4 linked regions of the Homo sapiens genome follow. The protein of the gene in region 4 purifies or fractionates together with the protein of the main gene of each other region. This does not show direct contact. Each region holds a gene or a part of one and is shown on either strand. Other genes may lie near its edges.

Region 1 (4,967 bases), on a different chromosome or scaffold from region 4:
ACACCTGTGTGGCATGCAGCAGGCGGCGGGGCGCCTCACCTGTGTAGCCAATCTTCTCGAAGCTGAGCAGGCTGAAGATGCTGTTGTACAGCTGCATCTCCTTGCGGTGGCTCTGGTCCATCCCATCCAGGATCTCCATCAGCTCACTGCCTGTCTTGGTCGGGTGGGCGCACGCAGCCTCGTGCACCGTCAGCTCATGGAAGGGGCCGTGCCATGGGCAGCCGATGCGTTTGTACTTGCACTGGGTTACCCTGGGGGAGGCAGGTACATCACTCACAGACTGAGCCCCGAACAGGAGGCTGCAACAAGCTGTCCTCCCATATGGCTTCCATCCAGCTAAGAACCCCTTCCTGCAGGACACACGTAACTGTGAGCCCACCCCCCAGGATGAGGTCAGAGTGGCAGCATGTGGAGAGAAAGGAGACAGGCAGAAAAAGGGAGAGAGAGGGGAAGGAAGAGTGCAAGCTTGAGCCTGTGTGCCCCGCACCATGGCGTGGTTCTCTCCTCTGTTTGGCAGTGGTGGTCCTGCACAGCCTCACTGCAGGAGACTTGGTGGCTGCCTCCACTGGATGGGTAGCCATGGGCAGTGTACCCTCACACCAAGCTCCCTGAGGTCCTGCGTTGGACACGCTGTCCTGGGCCCTTCAAGGGGCTCCCCCACAGCCACAAAGAGCACTGGAAGGCTAGGCTCATGTCCGGATAACAACTGGGTGCAAAACCCACCTGTCCCCATCCTGTGCAGGCACCCTCCCACAGGGCCGTCACTGGGCTACACAGGTGGTCCCCAAGGCCCAGACAGCAGAGACAGCCAGACCACCCTGCACAGGGCCCTGCTGCACCAGGGTGGGCTCCCAGCAGTCCTGGGCCCCGCCTGTAAGGCTAAGCCCCTGACCCTCAGTTACCTGTCCTGGCATTCCTCTTTCTGGTGCCTCTCCAGGAGGGAGCGGGGAAACTGGCGCAGGCAGAAGCCACACTCTGAAGGCAGCTCGCTCACGGCTTTCTCCACGGCCAGGTTCCGGCAGCAGAGGCTCTTACTGATCTCACAACGACAATTGGGGCACGTGGCCTGCTCCTCCTTCAGCCGGGCATCTGCTAGTAGGTGGATAAAACAGCCAGCGCACATCAAGTGACCATTAGTACACTGCGAAGAAGGAAAGGGAGACGAAGCTCACAGACCTGCGGGCTCATGCTCGCACACACCCGCCCATGCCCATCAGCTCCAGCCAGGTGTCCTGAGGGACTCCAGCTGGTGCAGAGGGGCGCACGTGCCTGTCCCGAGTCGTGCTGGAGTGTGGTGAACACTGCGAGCTGCTCAGGAGAAACAGGCAGAGCCAGCTTGGGTTCTTGCAGAGATTAGAGGTCCTAAAAGCAAGGCCTCATCAGCTCACAGAGGTGACAGCTCGCCCTGGCAGTGACGGGTTCAGCCACCTGGGGCCGAGGGTCACGCTTTTCCCTTAGGGACCAGCGACTGCCCTGACCCCCCTACAGGTCCAGAGTTTGGGAGCCCTCCAGGAACACTGGGCTCTTGGCCATCACTGTCAGGTGGGGAGCGGATGCAGCTCCCACACTGGGGCAGGCATGCTCTCTGGGCCTTCAGAAAGGCCATTTATCCTGGGTTGAGAGGACTTGGCTCAGGGTGAGCCCAGGTGAGAGGAGGCAGCTGCCCCCTCGTCCAGGGAGGTTGGCTACCTGCAGAGACCTCCTCAGAGCTGGGAGGCAGGAGCCAAGCTGGCCCAGGACAAGGACAAGGGCAGGTAGGCACACAGGGAGTGCCTGGGGAGCAGAAATGGGGGCTCTGAGTGGGTGCCGAGCCTGCTGGGGTAACCGGGGCTGGCAGGAGCAGGGCACCTCCCGCTGGGCTCCCTGCCTGTGTGGGCTCCCAGCACGCCCAGTGGCCTATCCTGGCTCTCACTCCCTCAACATAAGCCTCGAGCGTCCACTTGGTGCCACTGAGAGACACATGGCAAGCTGCGGTCCCAGCCCGTGGGGGCTCACAGCATGGGAGGTGGGAAGCCCAGACCAGAACCAAGAGGTCCAAGAACAAACAAAGCCTTTTGTACCTGAGCAGACACAGTTCCCACAGCCCTGGCTGGAGTGGGGTGTGTGGGCTGAGGCATTCCAGGGCCAGCCAGGAGTGACAGGGATGTGATGTGCCTCCCACCCAAAGACTCTTAGAGCTCGCTGAGGGGAGCAGTCAGCAGAGTTGCTCCTGTCCTGATGCCTCTCCAGCAGCCGGCCCAGGCTTGCCAGCCATGCAAACCTCCAGAAAGCCACTGGGCTACAGGCTTCCTTTGGGACCTGGGACCCTCTTGAGAATGGGATGTGGTGCAGCAGAGCAGCCTGCCCAGGCCCAGCCTCTCTACAAGGTGTGTGTCAGGGAGGGGACACTCACAGGGCCCTGCCTGGTGGCGCTGGGAGGCCGGCCCTGCCTGGTGGTGCTGGGAGGCCAGCCCTGCACACGTGGGGCCCTGGGAAGTCTGAGCTGCCATCCTACTGCTTCAGCTGCCTGTGCACCCCAAGCTAAGGAGCTGTCAGACGCTGGGGCTGTTCACTCAGCACCTGTGGACTAGGCCTAAGGCCTGCTGAGTCAAAGGACCTACATGTGGAGAACCGACAGTGAGGACAAAGCCCTCTTTCATGGAATCCACATCCACATGAACACCACCCGTTACCTGCATTCAATCCTCAAGTTCTCAGTTTGGTTAAAAATTAAAATTACAGGCGGTGGCTCATGCCTGTAATCCCAGCACTTTGGAAGGCCGAGGCAGGCAGGTCACCTGAGGTTAGGAGTTCATGACCAGCCTGGCCAACATGGTGAAACCCCATCTCTACTAAAAATACAAAAATTAGCCATGCATGGTGGCGAGCGCCTGTAATCTCAGCTTCTCAGGAGGCTGAGGCAGGAGAATGGCTCGAACCCGGGAGGCGGAGGTTGCAGTGAGCCGAAATGGTGCCACTACACTCCAGCCTGGGAGACAGAGTGAGACTCTATCTCATGAATACATAAATAAATAAAAATTAAAACATACACAGTTGCCTGAGGCAGGGAGTGAGACTGGCTCTGACTGGGTTGGGGACAAGCTGAGACCTGCCCCCAGGAGAAGGTGTGAAAATCCGCCAGCCAAGTCCAGGGGTCAGTGGTGGGTGGACTACAGGCAGGAGGGGGCACAGATGCTATTGAAGCAGCTGTCCTGTGGGAGGCACAGACCAAGGGCCCACACCACTGTCCTCTCACAGCCCCCCGCCCCCCGGAGGTATGCCACTCCACGTGGCCAGCTCTAAACACCTCCTGGTGAGACTGCCGGGGGCCTTGGACGAGGTTCTGGGTCCAGCTCTGCACGTACAGTGGCCTTAGCACAGGCAAAACAGCACTCTTCTTGGCTGTGGCCCGACCCCCAAGGGAGTTCCAGGCAGGGCTGGAGCATCTAATGCCACCCACCAAGGCCACCTGGCCTCTCTTCCTGGCTCTGCATAGCCCAGGAAGATTCGAGGTGGGGTCCTAGACCCTCCTAAGGGAGCACTGAGGCTGCCAAGCACATCACCACTTACCTCCCAGCACTGCGGGCCTCTCCCCCGAAAGCCACCCCAGCTCCTGGGCCGGCCCCTGGCCACAGGCCTCATTCCTTTGGGGCCTCCAGATCCCAGCATGGGCTCAGTCAATTCCATACCATGAGGAGGCAGCAGTGACCCTGCCCTCCTCTGGCTCTCTCTGGGCCTCCAAGAGGACCTGCAAGCTCCGAGGAGACACAGGGCCATTGCCCCTTCAGCCCCAATAGCTCCATTCAAGTCAGAACACAGGGAGTCCCTAGAGTGCCCTGGACTACACTGGCCCAGTAGCCAAGGGACACAGCCACACTCACCCCCAGACCCTCCCCACTGGTCAAAGGACATCTCTAGGTGCATGGCCCGGTCCCGACCAACACTCAGCCCAGGAGGTCTGTCCACAGCAGGACGGTCCCTGGTCACATGCTCCGGAGCCTCCCCACCATCTGGGTCCCCTCAGCCCCTGCGCAAGACTCTGGCTCTACACCAAGGCCAGGCCACAGGCAGCTGCATCCTTGGCCCTGGCAGCATCTGGCCAGATGCACTTGATTCTGACTTGTGCCCAACACCCAACAGAAGCTGGGCCCTGGAGGGCGCCGCACAGTCCAGGGGATGGCGTGGGCCAAGGCCCCCAAGAGCCCGGGCACCTTCCAGAGCAGCTGCTGTGGCACCCAGGCCAGGCCACCTCTCCCCACCAGCCAGGAAGACCCCAAGGGAGGGGAGAGGAGGGGATCCACAACCCCCCACGACCAAGAATGACGCCATGGGGGATGACATCATGGGCGAGACATCACAGAGGATGATGTCAGAGGGGTGACATCGTGGGAAATTGACATCACATGGGGAATGACATCATGGGGGAGACATCACGGGAATGATATCACGGGATGATGTCACATGAATGACATCACAGGGGGGACATCATGGGAGACTGGCATCACATGGGGGGATGACATCACCGGGGGATGACATCACAGGGGCATGACATTGCAGGGGAATTGCATCATGGGGGGTGACATCACGGAATGACATCACAGAGATGACATCACACTGGCATCATGAGGGAATGACATCACAGGGGATGACATTACGGGGATGACATCAAAGGGAGTATTGACATTACAGGGGATGACATTGTGGGAAATTGACATCATGGGGGACTGACATCATGGGGGGATGGCATCATGGGGGGAATGACACCATGGGGATGACATTAAAAGAGGTATTGACATCACAGAGGTGATACCACAGGGGATGACATCATGTGGTGACAGCACGGGAATGACGTCACATGTATGACATCACAGGGGAATGATGTCATGGGGGAATGACATCACGGGGGAATGACATCACAGGGCCTCCTGGGCCCTCCTAGGGCAGATGTGGGCTTGAAGCCACAGTGCTGGGCTCAGACGCCAGCCCAC
Region 2 (4,967 bases), on a different chromosome or scaffold from region 4:
AACTAGTCCTAGTTTAGGGACTTGAATATACCAAAACTCTAAATTTGATTCACAGTTTGAATAATAGCAGTAATTTTACATACTTAATTTAAACCAATATTTCTCTTTCTCAGTCCATGTTTATGAGGCAGATATGGTGTAGGAAAACACGGAATACTTAAAAGATGTTTGAGTTATTGAGAAAGGTAGGATCAGTTTTTGGTTAAATTCCTGTGACCAACAACTGTCATATTTCCAAGAGCAACTTTAAAAATTAAGGTCGGCCAGGCTTGGTGGCTCACACCTGTAATCCAAGCACTTTAGGAGGCTGAGGCACGCAGATCACCTGAGGTCAGGAGTTGGAGACCAGCCTGGCTAACATGGTGAAACCCCATTTCTACTAAAAATACAAAAAAATTGCCGGGTGTGGTGGTGGGCACCTGTAATCTCAGCTACTTGGGAGGCTGAGGCAGGAGAATCGCTTGAACCCAGGAGGCGGAGGTTGCAGTGAGCTGAGATCTCGTTATTGCACTCCAGCCTGGGCGACTAGAGCAAAACTCCATCTCAAAAATAAATAAATAAAATAAAAATTAAGGTCATCTGGCCTTAATGGATAAATGTTGATTTGAAATCCAGGACACACTGAAGTTCCAGATCAATAGTGCCTAATTTCAAGGGCATCACTGACATTTTTTTGGGAACAAGTTCACCGAGGGACAGTTAATTAACTGTTTATGTAGTCTTTTTGTAGCTCCCTGTTCCACCGTGAGATAAATCAGAACAAGGTCATTTTTCCCCTCAGTTACTGACTAGCTGACTTCTTTTAAAACCTTTCCTATTCATAAAATATTTGTATAAGTAAATTTAGATTATGTTGATAATTTGTTACATTAAAATTAACTTTTCGTTTATATCCCAAACCAGCATAATTTTCAAACTGTTAACTGAAAGAAGACCTCATTCAGCACTCTGTCTTTTCTTTTTTCTTTTTTTTTTTGAGACAGGGTCTCGCTCTGCCGCCCTGGATGGAGTGCAGTGGTGCAGTCTCGGCTCACTGTAGCCTCTGCCTCCCAGGTTCAAATGATCCTCCCACCTCAGCCTTCCCTGGGACTACAGTCATGCACCAACATGCCCGGTTAATTTTTGTATTTTTAGTAGAGGCGGGTTCTCACCATGTTGCTCAGGCTGGTCTTGAACTCCTGGGCTCAAGCAGTCGACCCACCTTGACCTCCCAAAGTGCTAGGATTACATGAGTGAGCCCTGGGTGCCCAGCCTGTCTTTTCAAAGATGTTATTACGTGTCTCTGGCCTAGTTTGAATTACCTTTTCAAAACGATGAAGGAGTGAATTAATGAATGCATATTCATTCATGTTTGGGTCTGTGTCTTGATTCTTTATTAAAGAAACGTCGCTTCAAGGCGAAAACATAGGCAAGAAATGTTGCGTAATGACGTTTTTATTTTCAGAGATTTCCTTAGAAAGTCATATTAGCTCCAAAATTAAGAAAAAAAAAAATCACAGTTGAGCAGCCAGTTGTGAAATCTTTCAGGGAGCCATAATCATAACTATCATGATTATTTTGTTATTTTTAACCGTGGCCAAACAGATGGATTTAAATATGCGAGTCAAAGCTGTTAGGGTTACTGTCTCATTTTGATGCAGGGTATTCTTTGCTTTTTTGTTTGTTTGTTTGTTTTTGAGACAGAGTCGCTCTCTGTTGCCCGGGCTGGAGTGCAGTGGCGTGATCTTGCCTCGCTGCAACCTCCACTTCCCGGGTTCAAATGATTCTCATGCCTCAGGGTCCCAGTTAGCTAGGATTACAGGTGTATACCACAACGCCTGGCTAATTTTTGTATTTTTAGTAGAGACGGGGTTTCACCATGTTAGCCAGGCTGGTCTCGAACTCCTGACCTCAGGTGATCTGTCTGCCTCAGCCTCCCAAAGTGCTGGGATTATAGGAGTGAGCCACCACGCCTGGTTATGCAGGGTATTCTTTGTGAATAAAGGGAACAAAATGTCTTCTGGCCAGCATTTTCTGTTCAACCAAAGGTGGATAACTTCACAATTAAATCAGTTATCAAACTGTCCAAAAACTGCTCTGGGCTCTTGTAATTCAGTGCATCAGTAGTGTGTTATGTCAGTTATTTTTCAAATTTATTGCAGTGCACGTCAGAACCTTCTTCCTAGTAAAAAACAAAACAAAACCCTACAGCTTTTGTCATATATGTCACTGCCGCAAAAATTGATGCTGCGTTAAATGGAGCTCATAAATTTAAAACTAAACTGAATTATTCCACCCTACAAAATACATAGAATCTTTCTTTTACACCCTTCATTTTAGATATAATAATTACTGATGCTCAATTGGTGTTCAGTGATAATGTTTCCAGAAGCCAAGTGGTGAGCATTTTTTTTCCACTTCAAAAAAAAACCTAACATACCAGACAACTGGATTTTAGATAAAAGAAATATGGGTTCTTCTAGGAGTTTTAAGTTTACGCACTTTTTAGGCAGTTTGGGGGAGGAGGAGAGAGAACCTGAGGTAAATACGTACCAGTCTAAACCCACTGGAGAGTGTCTATTTCTGAAAGGTGGGTTTGGACTCTGAGTGGTCCAAGTGGATGTGTTGTCACAGTTTGTGAGTGCTCTTTGGTTATGCTTCTCCCTGGAACTTGATGGGACTCACATTTTGACTGGCCCACACACACATCCTTGTTTTTGTTGGCAAGTGTAATGAGTTCAGAATAGAAAGATCATGTAGTGGTTTTATGTACAGGGGTGCACCTAACAATGTCCATGCCTGAAGGAATTGTATAAACTCAAATTGCACTGAGTATCCGTCATTCTGGCCAAGGGTCATGTCTTAAATATGGATCATGTAGGAGGAAGATCAAGTACCACCATCACGTTTGGGGCTGGCCCTAGATTTTATGGACACCCTCTGGACTCCACAATAGGCCTGGATATTTTCACCTCTCCTTTAATTTAGGGAAATTATTCATTTGACATGAAAAGACAAGTTCAGAAGAGTAGGTATGCTCATTCTTAGTGTGTCTTTGTTAAGAGGTGAAACTCCATTTCACCTGGTGAAAGAGGTACTAAGGCTTTTTTCAGTGGCAAGTCTATTCCTAAAGAAGTGGCCAGGCTGGACGCGATGGCTCATGCCTGTAATCCCAGCACTTTGGGAGGCTGAGGTGGATGGATCACTTGGGGTCAGGAGTTCGAGACCAGCCTGGCCAACATGGCAAAACCCCGTCTCTACTAAAAATACAAAAATTGGCCGAATGTGGTGGCGCATGCCTGTAGTCCCAGCTACTCAGGAGGCTGAGGCAGGAGAATTGCTTGAAGCCGGGAGGCGGAGGTTACAGTGAGCTGAGATCACGCCACTGCACTCCAGCCTGGGCAACAGAGCAAGACTCTGTCTAAAATAATAATAATAGTAAGTTGCCAAATTTTAATTTTTCCTTTTAGCAATAATAGCTGAACTCTTAAGAAGTGGCCAGATTCTTCAGGCCAGCAAGGTAGTTTTGGGGAAGAACTAGGTAGGCCCATTGGGAAGAGTGTGGACTCTTTTATGGTATGCAGTAATACTGTACCATATCACTAAATGTACCTGTGTTTTCTTGTATTTCCGTGCCTAGGATCAAGCTCACTGATGTCCTTTTGCTGGCACTTTGTTATCCTTCTCTTCATCCATAGTACTCTACACAAATATTATCTTACTACCACAGAATTGCAAAAGTTTTTCATGAGGAAAGTTTATTGTATTTACTTTATTTAGAAAAAATGAAAACAAGGTTGAAACTCTGTGGTCTACTTTTTTCATCTAGTGACTTGACAGGGCGGCTGCTATTGCATAAAGAATGCCTTTGCAACCGTTATCTTTTTCTAAAGATGCTGCCTCTTATAACAACACAGTATAGAATTTTCTTTTGTTTGCATTGGAATTTGAATACATCTACTTTTTCTTGTGAATGATGGAAGAGTCGAATGAACCTGTGGGTTCTCGAAATTAACTCTGGGAAGTGAGAGGGTGGAAGGGAAACAGTGACGACTCACAGGAGACACACTGGTTGAACCTGTGATCTTGCCAGGGCCATTTGTGTGAAGTCACCTGAATCTCGGTGTTTTTCCTCTGGATCAGCTGCCTGGATGGTTTTGTCAAACTTTCAGATCCTTCCATCCTCCACCCCCATCAATGTGTGACTTTGCATAACTGAGAAAGCTACTAAACACAGAATTAAGTTTCTTTTATTGTTTTTCTCTACTAAGGGAATTTGATTCTCTAGGATGACTTGCACTTCATGTGGGAAAGACACAGCTGGATGCCCAACTGATATCCATTCCCCCCTCCTTTTCTGTAACTGAACCCATTTTGTTTAATTCACCACTATGTCCAGTTAAGTGCTAGATTTCCCAGAATCCCTTGCAGCTGGGAGGTGGTTCAGTGACAGTAGTCCTGGCTGATGAGATGTAAATAGCTGGATGCCCCGTTCCCCAAAGCTCTTAAAAGGGGAAGCCTCTGTGAGCTTGCCTGTTAAGCCTTTTGCTCTTTGTACTTCTTCCCTGGAGAAAGTAAGCAGGCCATCGCGTGACCAAAGACAAGATGCTTGAGGGTTAAGGATGAGTGGGTGGAAGGTTAGAAGGAGGCTGAGAAGCTGATAGCATTCTGCAACTGCTCTACTGGACCCATTTCTTGACTCTGTGAGAAAAATAAAATCTCTACTTGGTTAAACCACAGAACTTGGGTCAGTTACTTGCAGCCAAATGTGATCTTAACTGAGTCTAGATGTCTAAAAATCATAGTTCATCTTTTCTTTAAAAATAAAAACGTGTTATTTTGTACGAGAAAAACAGGACTTTGGAGCCATGCAGATCCTCAACTTGAATCCTGGCTTTGCTATTTATTACAGTCTAATATTGGCAAGTAACTTAACCTCTCTGGGTCTCAGCTTTCTCATCTATAAAATGGTAGCTCTGATATATGTG
Region 3 (4,967 bases), on a different chromosome or scaffold from region 4:
TGTGCTTAGATGAGGATGCTGCTAAACCTCCTACTGTGCACAGGGTGGCCACAATTGTCACCCATGCTGTGGCTGAGAAGCCCGGGCCTCTGGTGGCCATCCTGCAGGTCTCCTGGGCCCTCTTCTCTTCCCATGGGGCATCTGGATTTCTTATTTTCCCCTGGACTTGAGGTTGCCCTGACCTCTGGGGCAAGCGGCCGTTCTGGCTGAACGGCCAAGGGTCAGAGTAGTCCCCAAATGTTGTCAGAGGCTGTGTACTTGGGCTCGTATTGTCATCTGCCCCACGATTGCAGGTGTCCCTTCTGGGACCTCTGCCACTCTGTTAATTCCTATCATTACCCTTAACCTGGCCTTTCTGCTCTGTGCTGTTTGCTTCAGTTTGCTCGGTCCGATGTCCAGATGCCAGTCTGTTATGAGAGCTTCTCTGACCCTTCATGACGATGTTCCAATAAACTTTACTGACAAACATCGGTGGAGGGCTAGATTGGGCGTGGGGGCCGTAGCTTGCCGACTTCTCACTCTAAAGGCATCTTTGTATTGTCTCTCAAGATGACAGGTGCTTTATCTTTCCTTCCAGGTGTGTGTTTTGGATCTGCGGAAGTAACCACAAAATATTATCGAAAAAAGAAAAGAATTCTAATGACCAGCCGTGAATGTGTAGGGTTGCAGCTCTATTCTCCAAAACTGTAGGAACTTGACTTGCGTTAGAGTGTACTCTGAAACCAACTCGTCTCTGGCCGCAGGAGTCTATATGTTTTCGTAATCTTCATCAAGAAGTTTTTAAAAGGCAAGCAAAAACAGAAGCAAATCATATCAAACGGGGATAGAATGGTTTCCACTGAGGACATTCAGCCTGGGAAGGAGGAAGTCACCAGCTCGAGGCGTGTGGATTGGTTTCCACCCGGAACAGGCTCTGTGATGGCTGAATGGAAAGAAACGTAAAAAGCTGTGCCAAAAAAAAAGCAAAATGCTGTGATAAACCAAACAGGGAAGGGGGAAAAACCCTCCTCCTTGGGATTTTTTTTTTTTGTTTTCCCTAACAATTTGGACACTACAATTGCTCTCACAAAGGAGGTTCAAAGACCAGTTTGTACCGATGAAACGCGCAACTTTGTAATCCCAACACTTTCTATTTTCTAGAATCTTCTTTGTTCATTGGGTGGTTTTTCAGTCGGCTGGAATTCTATCTTCTGGGGGCCTTCCGTCTGAGATGGAAGCTGTCTTGGGCTTGTTGTCTCTTCCTTCTGTTGCTCCCTGCCCCTCCCCCTGCCTTTCCACTCTGTCTGGTGAGCTCTGCTTTTTCAGTGCACCATCAAGAGATGCAGCCCCGTGGACATGAAGACACAATCTCCCACGGACAGCTTTCCCCCTTCCGCCCTCTCCCACCCTCTCCTCCCCTTGCGCTCGCGCTCGCGCTCGCTTTCTCACTGGCGTGCTCTCTTTCTCTCTCTCTCTCCCTCTGTACCTTTCTCATAGTTGCTTCAGATCTTAGGTCTCAAGGGCACTTTGGCGCGTAGTAAGTGCTTTATGTAAGAAGGCAGGGCAGGGGGGCTTTTTACAGGAGAAAAAAAAATGACTTATAAGAGAAAGAGCCTGGAGTATTTTTGGAAAAAAAAATAATATTTTTATGTTAAAACAATTTTAAAATCTTAAAATGGCCATCAGACATAGAGAGCTTTGTGTGATTCATGTTTTAAAAAGAACCGAAGAAGCCACAGGCAGGGCCTGAGGGAGCCCCTGGCTTTCCCCTCAGCCTCAGGAAAGGTGGTCAGGAAAACTCTGGCTGGACAAGGGTCAGTCTTCGGGGTCAGCAGCGAGATTGCTCTGCAGCCAGTGAGGGAGGTCCCCGCCATGCCGGCTGGAAGAAGAACCTCGCATCTTTTGGTGTGTATGCACCTTGGCAGCCAGCAGGAAAGCAGCGAAGAGCCGCGCGCCCTCTGGCCTCAAGGGAGCATTGGCAGAACCATAAGGTACTGCAGAAGCCGTCGAAACCGACTGCTCGGCTGGATTAGGCGTGTTGGCTACATCTTTCCCACAACCGTATAACGACCGATGGTCATTTCTCCAAGAGCAGGCTTGGCGAGTCCTTGCAGAGCTGACATAGAGGCGCCCGCATGTCACTTAGTCTAACGCTGACAGAAATGAATGCAGAAGGAAGATTTTCAGTCCTGAACGTGAATTATAGAGGTAGAACGTCGCTAATAATTTCTGCCATCTTTATAATTTCTTTGTCTCACAGAAGACTAGGAGAAAGATCTTTTTTAAATAATCTTTTTGCTGTTTTTAAAAAATTAAACAAGGCTTTGTGTTCCTAGAAGAGCTTCATTTCAGTGAATCTGGTGACCTCCATCTGCTTGCTGTCATAACCCGACACGGACTTATTTTTGTCATTAGCAAGGGGGAAAAGGCCAAAGGACAAGGGCCTCTTCTCCCATTGGTTTTCCTGTGGGCAGAAGGGCTGAGGAAGATGGCCCAGCCCGTGGGGGCTGCTGGGTCACCAGCAGTGGGTAGGGTGCAATCTGGTGTGTGTTCCAGCAGTGAGACGGTGTTATTGTGAAGGTGGCATTCATCTGCGGAGCCAAAACCCAGCCATCGGGGAAGGGTCAGGGCTTCTGTGGAACTTGGAACGTGCCAGGACCACCTGCAAAAGCCAGGGTGCGTTGATCATTCTCAGATCATTGATTGGCCTCCACTTGGGTATGTGAATTATTCATGTCCCAGAAGACCAAAAAGTGCTCTGGTTCTGAGATGAGTATTTTATTCGTGTTCTGTTTCCGAAACACTTAGCAAAGAAGGTCACAGTGATGTGGAGTCGCCGCACCCATCTTTGAAGATAGCCAGTGTCCCTGGATGAGGTGATGATTTCCCGTCCCAAGGACTCTGTGAAGTTTAGAGTACAGTTTGTTGGGGTCCAAAAGACACCATCTCTACCCCACCCAAATAAAAATGCACTCATCTCTGTAGAACATCTGCTGTCAAAGGCCAGCCTGTCGTTAGGGCATGGCTTATGCTTGACAAACCAGTAACAACTGTGGGATGGCGATGGTGGGATGTGTCGCAAGCAATTCACTAGACAATCTTCACATGAATGTCGGTAGCCAGGGTCTCTCCCGAGGGATGGCTTTAGTCTTGATGAATGTGAACCATGTCGGAATTGTTAGGTAGAAACCTGGGCTGGGAGGCCTCGGACCCCAGGCTCCATCCCTGGCTTCCCCAGCCTGCGGCCGCAAGCAAAACCAAGCGCGAGATGCAGCTAGCACCCTTCATATCCATCCCCGTTCTCAGCGGGACAACACCATGGACAGCCGTTTTCAGAGCCTCCAGCATTTGCACACCACTACTCACCCTCTCTGCTGCTGGCATGTTGGTAGAGTCATCCCTGTAATCAAGAAATGGCCTGTGGAATGTTATTGTTCAACGTTGTTTACAGCTCTTAAAACATGGTGAGGAATGCCTAAGTCTTAGTGACCAAACGTGACCTTGAAAGCAGACATAGCATGACAGACCTTCCTAGAGTGTTTGGTCGGGTTCACAGTGACCGAGAGTCAGGTCCAGCACACACCTGGGAAAGGGATGCTGCCCCAAGGGGGACCAAAAGGGCCGGACGTTACAGGGTGAAACCCTCTGACCCCTCGCGACACCGTAGGACTTGACTTTTGTTTAGTCTTTCTAAGAAATAGATCATGGAGCCAAGTGAAGTGCACTTTGTCAAATGTAAGGGTCTGCTTTGTTCTTGTTGCTTTTCTGTTTTTTAACCTTTTGTTCCGCCATTTAAAAAAAGAAAAAAAAAAAGCTTATGTTTCTTGTCAAATGCAGAAATGTTCCTTCCGCCACTCACTGAAGTTTTGCATTCTGGCTTGTGCAGTTTTTATTGTCTGTGTCAGACGTACAGCCAGACATGTTCTCTATTGGCATTTTTCCGATTCTGTTCAGATGACAGCGACCGCCTTTTCATTCCCCCCGCCACCTGTACTCACCCTCACGCTCTTTGAAGAAAAAAAAAAAAATCACCTTGTGTGTTGTAGCTCATTTGTTTCAAGAGAGAATCAACAGATCATATTCAGTGTCTTGAATAAATTGCTCTATTTTGATATTAGAGAACTTGGTGGGTGTGCTTTCTTCCTCTCGCTCTGGAACTCTTGGGCCCACGTTGACTGAATGACTGAAGACAGAGCTCTGTATTTTCTCCAGAAGGAAGTACCTTGAGCCTCTGTTTAGGATTGCTGTGTGAGATAGGGAGCTGGGAGCAGAACGCAGTGACATGGCAGTCACAGCAGCCGCCTGCTGTTCTGAAAGGTGGTTCTGTCCAGGGATCATGTTTTTTAGTGTGTTTCCTTTTCATTCTTTATTTCAGGCTGGCTGTTGGAGAAAGACAAAGCAAATGAATGTTCTCTCATCAGCGGATTGGTTGACCGGGAGTTTGAGTTCCCGAATTACCCCCGAGTAATTTGCAGAACCTAACAGGATGGGGTGACTTTGGACATGGACGTCTGCATGGTGCAAACCAACATGTGGCAAACATTTATTGACATTTGCTCTGTGCATGTCTTCATTTATGCTGCTTTAATTAATTAGGTGGCTGTTAAATAATGTAATTAGTGAATGGATATTGCTATCGGCATTCTATGAAGGAGGCTGTAGATTCCGAGAGGCGAAGAGATGGCCTTACTCTTAGTCTAAGGTTTCACTTTGCAGATGAGTCCCAGACAAAGTCACGGTGTCATTTCCCTCTAATCCTGCTTGTTCCGCACTAGGACAAAGCAGATGGCTAGGGGCGTAGAGGCTTCTGTGGTGATTCCCTGGGAAAGATCCAAGTGTGCCTGTGACCTTCACTGATGATCCGGACTTTTGCAGGAACCAAATCCCAAATTCAAGTCTTGAATTGGCAACTGAAGACTGAATATTATATGAGCAGTTGTCACCTTTAGAGAAAAACTTACCCTATCTTCCGGTGTTTTCTGGGGTTC
Region 4 (4,967 bases):
AAAAAGATCATTTTGGAGCTTTAAGATTTGACTGCTCTGCTGGATTTTAGACTTGCATGGGGCCGTAGCACCTTTGATTTGTCTAATTTCTCCCATTTGGAATGGCGGTATTTACCCAATGCCTGTATCCCCATTGTATCTAGGAAGTAACTAACTTGCTTTTGATTTTACAGGCTCATAGGTAGAAGGGACTTGCCTTGTCTCAGATGAGACTTTGGACTGTGAATTTTTGAGTTAATGCTGAAATTAGTTATGACTTTGAGGAACTGTTGGGAAGGCATGATTGGTTTTGAAATGTGAGGACATGAGATTTGTGAGGGGCCAGGAGTGGAGTGATATGGTTTGGCTGTGTCCCCAACCAAACCTCATCTTGAATTTTAGCTCCCATAATCCCCACATGTCATAGGAGGGTCCTGGTGGGAGGTAATTGAATCATGGGGGAGCGGGTTTCACCATGCTGTTCTCATGATAGTGAAAAAGTCTCATGAGATCCGATGGTCTTATAAAGGGCAGTTCCCCTGCACACACTCTCTTGCCTGCCACCATGTAAGACTTGCCTTTGCTCCTCCTTTGCCTTCTGCCATAATTGTGAGGCCCCTTCAGCTATGTGGAACTGGGAGTCCATTAAACCTTTTTTTCTTTATAAGTTACCCAGTCTCAGGTATTTCTTCATAGCACTATGAAAATGGACTAATACAATCAGGTAGTAAGTTATTATGAGAGATGGTTCTGAACTCATGTGTCCTGGTAGCTTCTAAAGATAGACATTCTCATTTTCAATTTCAGGTAAAGAACACAATAGTTGGTTCTCATAAATGACTTGCCATATTGAACTCGAGATAATTTTGTAGGTTGAAAAATACAATTATATATTTTTAATATAATATATGTAAATCTTAGTAGTCTATTATTTTGGTTAGAGGTTTAATATAAGGTTTATAATTAAAGAAAAGGATACCTTCCTTGTTCAAAGCTTTTCCTAAATTTGGAAGTGAAGAACTTAGCACAATATATTTGTATATACTTTCTTTCAATTTGATCCCTACCAGCCTTGAAGCCACCAGAAATTAAAGGGAAGATTCAAGTAATCTAATGGTTTTCTTGTATTCCCACTTTATTTTGTCTTCTTGTATTCCCATTTTATTTTGTCTCCATTTCAATGTTTTTTCTTTTTTCCTTTTTTATTCCTACTGCCCAAGAAGAAGAGACAGAGGAGAAAAGAATAAAATAGCAAATTGACCAATTGCCAGCTATTGTTCTAGAAATTTTAGCTCATTTTAGCTCCTTGAACCTCTTTAGGCTTTTTGTCTGATAAAACAGTGAGGTAAAATTAGCAGACCAGTGACAAAGAGGAGGAAATCTGAGGGCAAGGACATTCAGGAGTACCTGTTGCTAACAATCTGAAGTTCAAACTCTCCTGACTGAGGGAAGGAGGAAGGAAGTAGAGAAGCTGGCAGGCTTTTCAAGGAAGACGTGGTTTTCTTTAATATTGCAATCTGATTTAACACCAGACAGATAAAAAGTTGTCTTCCTTTGAAGATTTTGTATGATTCATATGATTCATGTTGGTGTTGCTTTAGGAACTCAGGGTTATCACAGCTTATATTTGTATGGAAACCCCCTACACAGTCTGTGGGAAATCTCAGCGTGAAAATTGCAGGGTAGGCTGTGGAGATACAACGGGGGAGAAAAGTCAGCCTCTGATGACTCACTTTAAGGTACACTTGCTTGGTGCTATAGGATGGTGTCCTTCCAGAACCTCTGGCCTAGTTCTTTAGGAACTTATGCCAAGTTTCCCAATGGAATGTCAGATAATATCAAGGCTACATTTTACGGGCCTAGTTTGAGAGATTAGACTGTTCAAAGTTGGCTGAAAATGCTGTAATCAGTCTTCCCCTCAAGGATAGTGGATACAAAGGGTATAGCCATCACCATGGCATTGTCAACAACAGCACTGTCAGGGGAGAGGCTGAAGCTAGAGGAGACCCTGAGAATGAAAGAGGTGATGGGAGAGGAGAAGGGTCCCAGAGCTGATGGAGACTAGGAGAGCCATGTGCAGATGGCAGTGTTGGGTTCAGGGAAGACATGAATCAATGGCACTGGAAAATGCTCCTGTGACTGAGGCAGATGAGCCCCCAGCATGGGGAAGAGAGGGCAGGGGGAAGAATTTGGATGCCCAGGAACAGCAGGTCAGCCCTCAGAGTAAAAAGGGAACTGAGTGTTTCTAACATTGCAGTGATCTGAGGAATCAAGGATGGCATTTGTATGGGAGTGAGGGGAAAAGAAGCCAGTCCAGTTCAGATCTGGCAAGGATTAATTCCTGGTGCCTGTCAGCCCAGAATCAGCTCTGGCTTCTTCCCTGAGCTCTCACACATTGTGAATCAAGGATGCAGGAGCCTTCTGAACCATAATGGCCCTTTTTTTGTTTGTTTTATTCTGATTTATATAATAATCTCTCCTTTTTAGGCTGCCACTCCTCAACCACTCTCATTAGCCTTTTTTTGTTTCTACTAATGAAAATTCCCTTCTCAACCTGTAAGCATGTTCTACCATGAGGAGTATGATGCTTGAGTTCTTCAGAGTGGCTTCTTTAGTCATGATAGGGAGTGACTCATATCTTTGCTTTACTCTAGGAGCTTTGTGTGTCACGGATTGAAAGAGTTTTTGAGATTTGCCGTGGTGGGGCATGTTTATGTTAAGGACATGCTCACTCTGAAGTTATTGTGACCTAATTAGGCAATTACCTACCATTGTCCTGCCTCCCACACATCCTGCCTATTGAGGATTGGAAGACTATGAGAATAACTTGCTTGATGGAGCCAAGAAGGACCCTAGAGAGACAGAGAGATGTGCACAAGTTTGGCAGCACAGCTAATAAATGAACTCAGGTCTTCTGTCTCTGCATTTAGGGTTCTTTCTGAAATACGATATGACTCTTGAAATTGCTTCTGGATAGCCTGGCAATATAACTTAGAATTAGCTTCTCCTTACATGAGAATTAGCTTCTCAGCACAGACCCAAGATTTCTAGAGACTCAACTCATCTACACTAGATTTTATCATTCCACCTTCACCTCTACTCCTTCTGACCCTGCTTAGCCATGCCAGTAAAAGGAGCTCCACTTGAAGTTGGAATACGGAATAAACTTTTGCTTCATCCAGTCAGTGGAGTGGTGTGTGTGGCAGCCTGAGAGGCAGGCTGCTTCAAGAGAGATAGCTACTAACACTTATTTGAACAGTGGCAGGCTACATGTCTTCGCTCCAAGTCTCAGTTTCCTCATTTGAGAAAATATACATTTTTGTGTATTTCAGCTTAATCCATGATAGATTTGAAGCCACCTGAAATTAAAAGCTGAGCTGAGGTCCTTCAAGTACTCATATTCTGTGCTTTCTTTGCCCATAAACACAGGGAGCTGTTTAGATGAGGTCATATGAACATTCTAGTTCAGCATTTACTTCATGGCAATAAAGTATAGAACAGGGAACCAGCACAATATTTAGACATATTTGCCAACAACAAACAGCTGGGTGCTCAAGCCTGCCTTTGCTCCTCCTCCCCAGCCTGGAGGTCTTTCTTTTCAAGAACTTTTCTGGTCCCGTGGCACCACCTTATGGTTTCAGTGGATAACTACTTGACCAGTCTTGTCACTATTCCCTTTTACAAGAGGTACGGCCTGTCACACCAGCTGTTTTTCCTGTTCTCAGACCAGGTAATTGAAATCCGTTTTACTACACAGATGTGCCTCTTCCTCCTTTCTCGATTTCTCCAAACTATTGAGTGCCTTTCTCAGGGAAATCTTTCTCACGCCTTCTTCTCTTTTCCTAATCTCTCCCATCTCATTTCCTTTTTCATTTGCAAACCAAAAATAATTGTGCTATGTAGTCCCTTATGTCAAGAAGAACAAAGTGAAACAATTTTGAAGTCGCATTAGACCTAGCAAAGAACTTCAAAAACCTTTGAAAATACCCTCAAAGGCATCTTAACATTTCTTACTTACATTTCCACTGAATTATCTCTTCCTCTAATTAAGCCTACTTTTCTTCATCAGTTGCATATACAAGAAATTTTTAAAAATGATTTATTACACAGTTTTCTTAGTTTTCAGTTTTGGTTAATGACCAGCAATACAATAACATTGCTTTACAGTAATTTGCATTGCAAATATGCCAGATCTTCTGCTATTTTGTGTATCAAGTGGGTATTTTCAGTCACCTGGGAATCCAACCGCTATTTTAATAGCATTCTTTTGTGGGAAAATCTGTTCTGAGTTTCAAACAAATGCCCTCCAAGTAGAGTTTTGGAACCCAGCCATATTGTAAACTGTGTGCTGTCCATAGAGCGTTGAACATAGTTTAGGGCATACTGGGAGACATTGATCCAAATGTTTATATAGTGTTTTGAAAGATAAGGACTTTCTTATTCTTTCAAACAGTGGAATAATTTGATTATGCAAAGAGCCCTGGAGGCAGCATGATGGTTCCTTAATATGAATAATAATAACGACAATAATATTGCAACCATTTTTCAAGTACTCCATGATGTACCATGCACTGTGTAAATTGCTTTACATGCATGACTGTTTTAATCCTTGTGGAAATGTTCAACACAAATATTATCATCCCCATTTCACGGGTGAGAAACCTGAAGTTCAAGAGGTTAAAATACTTTGTTCAATATTACATATCTAGTAATGTGTCACGATTCCAGTGGCCTGGCTCTTAAGCACTATAGAAAGAAGAAAATGGGCACAGCCAAGTGTGGTTTATGGAATGACAGAGTTGGCACGGACCTTAGAGGATTAAAATGTCATGGACATATGCAACTTTGCTTTCTTCCCTCAAAAAATCATAACTCAATCAGAAAGTTAAAAAAAATCTTAATTATTCAGCCAATCACTAAAAAATAACTTCTTATGTTTAAATCTGTCTTAACAGTCTACAGAGCACTCTTCTATACGTTATTCCATT

Evidence for each region.
Region 1: the proteins of HAO2 (region 4) and ZFTRAF1 purify together in Homo sapiens (affinity purification with mass spectrometry; 2 studies listed by BioGRID and IntAct, with this or other methods). This does not show direct contact.
Region 2: the proteins of HAO2 (region 4) and PPFIBP1 purify together in Homo sapiens (affinity purification with mass spectrometry; 2 studies listed by BioGRID and IntAct, with this or other methods). This does not show direct contact.
Region 3: the proteins of HAO2 (region 4) and TBL1X purify together in Homo sapiens (affinity purification with mass spectrometry; one large-scale study listed by BioGRID and IntAct). This does not show direct contact.

What each region holds. Positions count from the first base shown.
Region 1 is NC_000008.11:144,452,320-144,457,286, forward strand, and holds part of ZFTRAF1 (zinc finger TRAF-type-containing protein 1), read right to left. Parts: intron 1,142-4,967; coding exon 903-1,141; intron 252-902; coding exon 40-251; coding exon of another isoform or gene 1-39. Other genes in the region: TMEM276-ZFTRAF1 (uncharacterized protein LOC157542 isoform 1 precursor), read right to left, coding at 40-251, 903-1,141.
Region 2 is NC_000012.12:27,526,291-27,531,257, forward strand, and holds part of PPFIBP1 (liprin-beta-1), read left to right. Parts: intron 1-4,967. UniProt on the Homo sapiens protein: May regulate the disassembly of focal adhesions. Did not bind receptor-like tyrosine phosphatases type 2A.
Region 3 is NC_000023.11:9,715,643-9,720,609, forward strand, and holds the end of TBL1X (F-box-like/WD repeat-containing protein TBL1X), read left to right. Parts: intron 1-577; coding exon 578-604; 3' UTR 605-4,098; downstream 4,099-4,967. UniProt on the Homo sapiens protein: F-box-like protein involved in the recruitment of the ubiquitin/19S proteasome complex to nuclear receptor-regulated transcription units. Plays an essential role in transcription activation mediated by nuclear receptors.
Region 4 is NC_000001.11:119,371,344-119,376,310, reverse strand, and holds part of HAO2 (2-Hydroxyacid oxidase 2), read right to left. Parts: intron 1-4,967. UniProt on the Homo sapiens protein: Oxidase that catalyzes the oxidation of medium and long chain hydroxyacids such as 2-hydroxyhexadecanoate and 2-hydroxyoctanoate, to the correspondong 2-oxoacids.